2 separate regions of the Homo sapiens genome follow, and region 2 is linked to region 1. A link means that fine-mapping ties the variant in region 1 to the expression of a gene that starts in the linked region. Tissue or cell type: pancreas. Region 1 holds a variant in brackets; the other region holds the start of a gene. All regions are shown on one strand. Distances are between the middles of the regions.

Region 1 (5,208 bases):
TTTTGAATGGAACAAAGATGCACTCATTTGAAAGCATTTCATTCCTCTGTAATCCTGAAAGCTAACCCATCGTTCCCACCCACAGCCTGTATACACACTGCTCCTCCTGTATTCCCATCTCTGCATTGACAGCCCCATCCTCCAAGGCACCCAAATGAAAATTTCAACCTTTTCTTTGCCTCACTTGGTGGACACCAAGTCCTGTATAATCCACCTCCTAAGAATCTCTAGAAACTGCCCCGTTTTTCGTCCCCTTTGGCCATCAGGAGTCCTATCTTTTCTTGCCTGGACAATGTAATCATTCCAATCAATCAAATCTAAGTGGATTTATCTGCTTCTTTGAATCTACTTCCTCCTCACAATTATCTACTTTCCCATCCTGTTACCAAAAAGACTTTTCCAAAATGAAATATAATCACATTATGGCCCTGCTTTAAAGCATTGAGTATGTCTTCATTGTCTTCAATATGGAGGAAAAACTCTTTCACAGCCCAGCCTCTACCTTTCTCCGGAGCTTCCTCTCCTACTGTGTTTCCATGCATGCTTCACTGCAGACACCCTGACTGCCTGTGGTATCCTGAACATCCCTTGCCCTCTTACAGGTTTTGTCATGCTAGCCTCCTGCCTAGATTGCCCTTCCCCACATTCCCTCCTGTATTCATCTCCTGTTGCTGCTGACACAAATCACTGCAAGCTTAGTGGCTTAAAACAGCACTTACGGCCAGGCGCTGTGGCTCATGCCTGTAATCCTAGCACTTTGGGAGGCTGAGGCAGGTGGATCATGAGGTCAGAAGATCAAGACCATCCTGGCTAACAAGGTGAAACCCCGTCTCTACTAGAAGTGCAAGAAATCAGCAGGGCGTGGTGGCGGGCGCCTGTAGTCCCAGCGACTCAGGAGGCTGAGGCAGGAGAATGGAGATCACACCACTGCACTCCAGCCTGGGCGACAGAGCGAGACTCCATCTCAAAAAAAAAAAAAAAAAAAAAAAAAACCCAGCAACTCACTTATTTTCTTACCATCTACAGGCCAGAAACCAGAAATCAGTTTCACTCAGCTAAAGTCAAGGTGTTCCAAGGCCAGCTCCTTCTGGCTGCTCTGGGGGAGAATCTATTTCCTTGCCTTTCCTACCTTCTGGAGACCACGGGCATTCCAGGGCTGGTGACCCCTTCCTCTGACCTCCTGCTTCCATTGTCACCTCTTCCACTGTCTGCTTCTCTGTTAGCAGGATTATCTCCTTTTTATAAGAACATTTATGTTTACAGAGAAGCCCACCCAGATAATCCAGAACACTCTGTCTCAAGATCTTAATTTAATCACATTTGCAAAATCCCTTTTGCGATATAAGATAACATTCACAGGCTCTAATGATTAGTCCCTGCTTATTTTCGGGAGCCATTATTCTGCCTAGCATACCTATCTTTTTCTACCTCAGCCTTTCAGATGCAGCTTAAACATTTCTTCTTTTCTGGGAAATTTTCTAACATCCTATTCCCTCCCCAATCCCATTACTTCCTCCAGCAATTCCCACTGAGTACCTCACTAATACAACTGTCTGGGTTTGCTTGGGACTAAGGGGGTTCCCAGAACACAAGACTTTCAGTGTTAAAACCAGAAAACTGCCAGACAAACCAGGATGAGTTAGTTACCCTAAGTCCTCACCTTTCTTTCCACATCACCCTCTTTGTAGCACTCAGCACGTGGGATTGTAAGTTAGAATTCTCAGTTCTCTTGCCTTTCTCCTCTGCAAGGCTATGGGTGGGAATGTTTCTTTTGTGTTTCTGATGCTCATGCCTTCGTTTCTGGCATGTGGCAGATGCTCCGTAAAGTGAATGGAGTTTGTGGAGCAGCCCTGCAACAGCAGACAATCTAGGCAAAGTGGAAATTTTCCGCCCTGTGACTAGAACAAAAAACCAAAATGAAACAGAACATTAAACACCGGTATGATGTGCTATGTTCTCTTGGGCACTTTTTTCTTTGATTTTCTCATCTATACTTGCAAATTTGAGTAAAATTAGACACAGTTCTTTGCAAGAACCCAAATATTCGCAGTCCTTGACAGAACACACTGTCTTCAAACAAACAGAGGCTCTACTATTTATAGCTGATTGCTTCACCGCTTGTCTTGCCTGTTTTTTAGAATGCCCTTTGCCACGAACAAAGCAGATTGAAAATAGATGTGGGGCCAGGTTCTGGGAGTCTTCTAACATTTCTTTATTCTCTTAAACACTGATAAAATTGACCCATTCTTGGAATTTGCCTCCTGAATGCTGCAGCAGCTGGAGCACCAGACATGTGACTCTCTTTGATATCACTTCTGTCTGTGTGCCCTCCAGCCAACTTTGTTTACCTCTACAAAAGTGCCCTTGAACAAAGGTGCCCTGCAACTTAGAGTTAATGGAAAAGCAACTGA[G/A]GTAAACATTAAAAAGTGAGACTCAGACAAAGACATCATTTAACCAGAGCCATCGATTCCACAGTCCCAGTTCAGAGAAAAATCATTTCTATTGTTGAGTAGGGAATAAATTTATGCCCAAAAGCCAAGTGTGCCTATAATGCTTATGAACAACCACATGAATGGAAACCCTGGACAGAATGAGGGACCAGAAGGAATTAAATTCACATCTTCTGTCGCCCACATTTAAAAAGAGAGAAACTAGGAAATTGAAACCTATTTATGTTATGCATCTGCAAAAACAGAAGCTGTGTAAGAAGTTACTCCTAATGAATGAGAAAATAAAACGTGAAACTTTAAAATGAGAATCAATTATATTTTATCAGTATATTTCCAGATCTTTAATAATGAGCTATGCCTTCCATACAGAATTGAATCACATCAATCAAAGTGAAGAACTCAGCACAAAAGCAATTAGAGGGAAATATTTGGAAGACTACAAAAACATAGTGTTGTAGATAAAAGTAAATATATTATTTTGGTTTGGAAAAATATTTCAAACTCTACTTAAGGTTTATAAATCCTTTCTGTAATTCATGATAAAGGGGGAAGCTCTTGATTATTATCCTCAAGACATACACATATCATGTCTACGTGAATGAATCTGAAAACTGTCTGAATGAGGATAACTCCAGAGGTCACGACAGATGAATGACTCATCTACCCAAATGCAGCCACCAGAGCCCTGATTTGAACCCTGGGCATACAGCTTTTTAAACACACCCCAGCATTTGCCTGCAAATGTGTCCTCACAGCTATAATTTCACTTCCAAACTCACTAAAGAGTCATCTATCAATGCACTACTGACTGGTTTTTACACATACTGAGTTGCAAAGCAGTATTTTAAAACCAGCTATGTAAGAAAACCCATATTTCCCTAGCTTTATGTGCTCTAGAGCTATAAGGACATAAAGCTAATGGAAATAAGAAGGAAAAGCAAACGTCCCCTTCCTCCTTCCATCGGATCTGGCTTTCTGGTCACCGTGTTTTATCAGATTAAAATGTAAAATGAGACTAGTAAAGCTGATTTAAATAATCTCTCTCTATCTAACCATGAGAAAAATTGGAAGGCCCAACTAAGGTCGTGTTAAATGTTAACCTCTGCCAGGAATTGAGGCTGAAGTTTCACCAGCAGAACAGGAAGTTGCATTCTATAACTGCAGTCAACTTGCCTCTATTGTCTTTACAGAGCACCAGATAACGTTAAAAATTCAAAATTGCTAAAACACCACAAATAACTTCTTTCTCTGTCTTCATGACATATTTTATGTTTTCTTTTTATTTTTTGTCTTTCTGACCCTCTAACTAAGTTGATATTTTACTTCTCGAGTCCCTAAGACCTTACTTTATAGCTTCAGAATTTTAGAGTCAGAAGGGGTCATAATCTAAGGTTCCTGAGAAGGCTATAACCTTAGGGGGTGAAAAAGAGAGAAAATATATTTAAATAAGTTTTGTTATCTGATAAACTTACTGACTTGTTTTCCCTTTTATCACAGACTGGATAGAACTTTGTCTAAAATGAACACTGATCCACAGACTATAGCTTGGGAACCCCTGATCTAATTTCATCCCCTAACTGTCAGCTAAAGAAATTAAAACTCAGGGTCACTTGGCCAAGATCACAGAGTTCATTGCTTTTGAAGGGAGCCAGGCTTTAGACACTCAAGTCTCTTGACTGTGTAGTGTGTATTCTATCATACAGGCACCACCCCCCGCCAACTCCCTACCCACAAATAAAGCTAATGCTACCATTTTTATATACCACTCATGGTAATCTGCAAAATTAAGTGAAATTATAATGTATTTTAAGCCAAACATATAATTTGATTATAAAAATTAAGACTTTATTCTAGACCTATAATTATAAAATTAAAATTATAATTCCATAATTTTATAAATTCTCATGTTCACAAACAATGTAACAATGTCATGCAATGGAATAATTTCATCCAAATTGCAGATGATGCCAAATTAATGCTTTACAACTATTTTATTATGAAGTTAATTAAAAAGCATTATATAAAACTATGTGGACATAATTATCTCAAAAATGAAAAGGAATATTAAAATATATGTCTAGTTAAAAGATTTAAAGATAATATTCCAAAATAACAATGGTTATGTCTGATAGTAATATTCTGGATACTTTTTTTCTTTTGAATGTTTCTATAATTTCACTCTTTTTAAAAATATTCATCTTTTCTTTTGTAATGATAAGAATCGACTACATTTTTAAGTCCAAAGAATAAAAATAAATCCAATATCGTGTTTGTGTATGTTATGCCAACATGCTTTTTTTTTTTTTTAAGTAACACAGACGTGTTCATTCAAATAAGTTGACATTTTCATCTTGGTTAGCTGGTTTGATGAAAGTCCAAATCACATGCCAATGAGTAAACTCACTAGCCCATATGACCCAGCTCTGAAAAAGAAAGGCATATAATTTTGTTTCACAAACATTGAGAAGCAGCAACTTTTGGGGTGGGAGGGGTGCTAGAAACATCCTTTGACCAACATTTATGTGAAATGCATGTGCCAGAAATTATAATGACAGAAAAAGGAATTTGATGTCAAACATTTTAGTAAATTACAATATGTACTCTAGAAACACTTCCACTAGAAGGAAAACATCCATTTGACTGAATGTGTAATTTCTATTTTTATAATACAATGTAGGCAGATTACTACAAAAAGTGTATGCAACCATGTGAAGTTTAAAGCTTAAATATAAATAATTAGTATCTAGCTTGTTTATGG
Region 2 (5,111 bases), 63 kb after region 1:
CCTGTGATAAATAATGCCCCTTTTCCCAGTCTATATATGATGAATGGTGCTAGGCTTCCGATTAGCTTTAATTCCAAACTTCTTTATGACAGATTAGTGGTGTTACCAAAATATCAGAGTCATGTCTGAACCTTGACTCAAGGGAAAAAAATAATTACCTGTGGAGCTGAAAACACTGAAATAGTTGGTTACACTTTACTAAGTAAAATATAATTAGAAATGTTCAAATAAACTGGAAGTGAGTTTAATAAAGTTGTCCACCAAAGTAGTGACATTGAACACTTACTTTTTATTATATGGGAATTTTCATGTAATTCAGGAAAAAGACCTTAAGGCTCTTTATTTGTTTCCATGTGTCCTCTTAGTGTGTATAATTTAAGATCACAAATTACTCTTTGCATTCTAGTTTGACAACTAAACTTTTTTTACTTTCCACTCACAAGATTTATAGGGAATTTGTGCATTTTGACCTTTTGATTCTAACAACCAATCATTAGCCAATCAAGAATGGAAACTTTGGAAATATTACAGATAGAGCCACTGTGATTTAAATCATTTAACATGTTAATTCTGACAGAAAATCCTACTCAGAAAAAACAACCAGCAGCAGCATGTTTGAGTGCAAACAGCAAGAAACATCCCAAAACATGACCTCCCCGATAGTCAGAATGACGCAGCATCCATTTCCTACTTTACAGAATTGCCTCCCATTATAAATCACTTTATCTTCTCAACTCCAAAGCATCCCAGACACATTCTTTACCCGTGAATTCACAAGCCTTTTCTCTGAGAGAGGCCTTGGGACTAGGAACTTTTTGAATGAGTGTAGAAGTCGGGAAGGAGACAATAGTGTCAACTTGGGATTGCCTAAGGCAACAACAGAGCAAAACAAGAACGCTTTGGTTCTCTGGGTCTCTGTCCCTGATTGCATAGCGGGTCATTGTTGGGAAATATTTCCTCACCTGGCATTCCAAGAAATGGAGAGCTCCACAGCTGTATATAGTCCTGTCATTAAATACAGGAGTGTTCTATCCCGCTGGAATTAAGAAAATTGGTAGAACCAGATTGTGGTCTGAAATCTTTTTTCAGAAATGCTGCCATCGTGTGGCACTGCGGAGCTATGACCAGAAGAGTCCTGTAAAGGGTCGTATGGTTCATCTCAAGATGGCTGGGCTCCAGCATAATCTATTCCTATAATTAATTCTAGCTTCATATTGAATCATTCCCGTGGGCACAGAGTAAACTACAGTAAATCCTGTGGAAATTTTGTTGTTTTTAGAATTTTCAGACTTCCCTCCACTAAATTGACAACATGACACGCTTATGCGGGTATGTTTAAAGGAAAAAAATAGTTTTTAGAAGCAGAAAAAAGAAGTCTATTTTGCAACTTTATAATCTGTGTGCTTTCTATTTTATAGAGATAGTCGTCATCTTACTTATTAAAATGGGTGCTTATTACCTACAAACCAATCATATCAATTCATCTGGAATACATCCAATTTAAGGGAGACATATTTCCCCCTACCAAATGTTCATGAAACCTATGAATTAGCTATACACTATCACTGCAAGACATTATTTAATCTATATTTATATTAAAAGTAATATTTGGCAAAAGGAAGCTGACACTTTAGGACTAATAAAAACCACAATTACTTTTGCAGCAACCTAATAATAAATAGGACCATTTATTTTTCATCTCAATTACACACAAGTCTTAACAATAAAGGTGTAAGGTAAATAAATAGTGCAATCTGCATTTCACAACTGAGAAAGCAAATGAAGATAAGTAATCTCAAGGCAATATTAAATATTTTAAAAGGACCCAGAGCTCTGCTATCCCTGAATTCTGCTCTAATATTCGGACTTTCCCTGTAATTTTCTTTCATTCAGACACCTTTTAAATACCTAGTAAAGTGTTTTTTAATACAGAAATTTTTAAAAATGTTTTTCTTTTTAAGTGGCCTACTTTACATACCTTGGGAGAAAAACTAGAAAAAAAGATGATTCCAAAATCGAATCTGTTCCTTTAGAAATGTGCAAAATTTCCTTATTGATGCATACAATTTAAAGATCTTACGTCTACTCTCATTTTAATAACCTGTTCTTTTAAAGGACATTACAATTCGTGACTGCCTGCCCCTCTTAAAAATTTCATAATAGTTAACACACATATAGTCCTTAAGATACGCAGAGCATTTGCATCTAATATGTGCTAAGCATTGCTAGTTTAACATACTAATTCATTTAAACCCCTCAAAAACCCCATGACCTAGGTAATAGTATTGCATTTCATGGATGAGGGAACAAGGATAGGTAGGCTGGGCGATTTGCCCAAGGTTGCACAGGTCAGCAGTGACACAGCGGAATTCAGAACCACGGTCTGGCTCCTGAAGCAGCCCTCTCAAGCAGTCATCCTGCTCTCAGTCAGAAACTGCTTTACTTCTGCAACATCTAGAATAAATTACCATTCTTCTATTTCATATAGAATTTTATATTTTAATGTCACTAGTGCCATTTGTCTAAGTAACAAGCTACTGCATACTCGAAATCACAAAGCTAAGCTTGAGTAGTAAAGGACAGAGGCAAGTTTTCTGAACTCCTTGCAGGCTTGAACAATAGCCTTCTGGCTCTTCAATAAGTACAATCATACAGGCAAGAGTGGTTGCAGATATTACCTTTATGTTACTTAAACCGAAAGAAACAAAAATCCATTCTATTTAATTTTACATTAATGTTTTTCCCTACTTTCTCCCTTTTTCATGGGATCCCTAAGTGCTCTTCCTGGATGCTGAATGCCCATCCCGTAAATGAAAAAGCTAGTTAATGATATTGTACATAAGTAATGTTTTAACTGTAGATTGTGTGTGTGCGTTTTTGTTTTTTTTTGTTTTAACCACAAAACCAGAGGGGGAAGTGTGGGAGCAGGTGGGCTGGGCAGTGGCAGAAAACCTCATGACACAATCTCTCCGCCTCCCTGTGTTGGTGGAGGATGTCTGCAGCAGCATTTAAATTCTGGGAGGGCTTGGTTGTCAGCAGCAGCAGGAGGAGGCAGAGCACAGCATCGTCGGGACCAGACTCGTCTCAGGCCAGTTGCAGCCTTCTCAGCCAAACGCCGACCAAGGTACAGCTTCAGTTTGCTACTGGGTTGTGCATTCAGCTGAATTTCATGGGGAAGTCCAAATTCTAAGGAAAAATATTTTTAATTGTAATGCTGTTAAACAGACTTAAATTTTCTAGCCTTTTTAATAAGCAGATTAGATACATTGCAGGTCTCCTGGAACAAAGGTGTCTAGATATTTTGAATGCCAATCAAATTTAAAACTTAAAAATACTTCCACTGGGTCCTCAAAAGAACGGAAACCACCGATGCTAATCAGAAAATAGTAAAATTAAATTCCCCTTTGGAATAATTATACCTATATAATTTTCAGTGGGTGACTGTGCAGGAATTTAAAAGAAAAGGGATCTTTTATGCTAATTAAACCAATTACAATGCTATTTTTTAAATGATGTATCTCACTTTTAAGGGGAAGAAAACCCTTTCTGAATATGCCACTGCTAAATTTAGCTGTTAAAATATTCACCAAGATACCTGTATGACACTGTGTAGGCTTATTATTACAAATAGAAAAGCTGTTGGCTATTTTCAATGTTTTCCTTTGAATTTCAAATTTTTAGAACATCTTACTTAAATAACAAATTTCAGAGATAGTTTGATTTCACCTAAGTAGCACCTACTTGATAATTAAGCTAAAAGTCACATTTAAAGTACATGTTGGAAAAATGGATAAAGCAAATTTTTTTCATTTTTTTCTGTGAGTTTTTTCTTCTCTAAAAAATATTCCCATACTAGCTTATTAATATAATTAAGTTACTGTTGATCTGTTTGTAGGTTTAGAGAGCTAGATATATAAGGTAGTAATGGTATAATTTCTGGAACTCTAAATTTTAAAGTTGAATAAATACAGACTTGCAAAATTTCCCTTTCCCTTGCCTAATAGTGAAAGATGGATAATAGGTGGCAATATAAATATTAACTTGAAAGACTATAATACTAAAAAGAAAAGGCATCTCTAAGAAGTAGAAAAGATTCTATAGAAAATATATTTTATTTGTGATCATTTTGTAATGTGGTAGTATAAAAAGGTATCACTGTTGTAACCTATGAAGATGTCAGCTATTCCTTATGAAATATTTTGCAGGAAAACTCACTACCATGAGAATTGCAGTGATTTGCTTTTGCCTCCTAGGCATCACCTGTGCCATACCAGTGAGTACAGTTGCATCTTAAAGAAAATTCCTGAAAATAACTGAATTGTGTGCTTCCATGTGCTAGGAGGACATTCTTGTAATCTTTCTTCATCTTTTCTGTTTCTAAGGTTAAACAGGCTGATTCTGGAAGTTCTGAGGAAAAGCAGGTAAGCATCTTTTATGTTTTTATATAGTTAAATCATTTACTCAATTATGGCGAGAGGTGCAAGAAACGTATTTGCTGCGATATTACTTATCTTCTCAGTCAAATCCATTGGTTTACAAGTATTGATTGACTGCCTGCTATGAATCTAGGCCAGTACCAAGCACAGTATAGTTTTTAATAAATATAAGTTTATAAAACCAACCCAGATATTTTAAATATAATAATATCTAGGCATGTATGATGAGTTATCGCATGTAAGATAAGTTATATGAAGTTGTGTGACTTTTTTTCCATTAGTCCACATACTGATCTAAAAGCAGAAAATTCCAGCTTTTGCTTTGTTTAGTGGATTGCTAAGTTTAAAATTCACATTGGATATTAGTCAGAACTGTTTGTATGACCATAATATTCACAATATTGTCTGAGATATTAGCTGAGAAGCCCATTGTGAAAAGAAAGTCTATGTGTGCTGTTTGTATCTATTGTGATTGTCAGCTGATGTTAGATCACATTTTCTAACCAAACATAAGACCAACCAAACTCTTTATTATAATTATTTGACCAGCACTAAAGATGTACCTACCCCTCCACAACAGATGAAACTGTGCCAGCCAAACAACAAATGGGCATTGTCCCCAGAAGCTTGGACAAAAAGGCACACAGAGTTCAATTCCAGTTGAACAGAATAAAG

Direction of the effects. Positions count from the first base shown, and alleles are read on the strand shown. Sizes are in standard deviations (SD) of each study's normalised expression.
In carriers of allele A in region 1, the expression in pancreas of the gene that starts at base 3,038 in region 2 tends to be lower than with G alone (small effect, 0.29 SD a copy in GTEx).

What was found. PIP is the estimated chance that this variant, and not a neighbour inherited with it, causes the effect.
Region 2: it holds the start of SPP1, and the variant in region 1 is fine-mapped to the expression of SPP1 in pancreas (GTEx, PIP above 0.99).

Annotation. Positions count from the first base shown.
Region 1 is chr4:87,909,236-87,914,443 of GRCh38, forward strand. No RefSeq gene overlaps it. Among named protein-coding and RNA genes, the nearest start is that of SPP1, 64 kb to the right of the region's middle. The variant G/A (reference allele first, on the strand shown) is at 2,412.
Region 2 is chr4:87,972,677-87,977,787 of GRCh38, forward strand. It overlaps SPP1 (secreted phosphoprotein 1), which reads left to right and starts at 3,038. Exons shown (of 7, transcript NM_001040058.2): 1 at 3,038-3,124; 2 at 4,206-4,273; 3 at 4,383-4,421. The coding sequence starts at 4,220. LOC124900730 (a long non-coding RNA gene) reads right to left here and starts at 1,093. Exons shown (of 2, transcript XR_007058172.1): 1 at 963-1,093. RefSeq lists promoters at 792-3,034, 2,034-3,121, 2,911-3,124, cis regulatory regions at 2,044-2,053, 2,269-2,277, 2,344-2,352, 2,790-2,805, 2,980-2,989 and 1 more and enhancers at 2,296-2,316, 2,679-3,178, 2,941-3,011.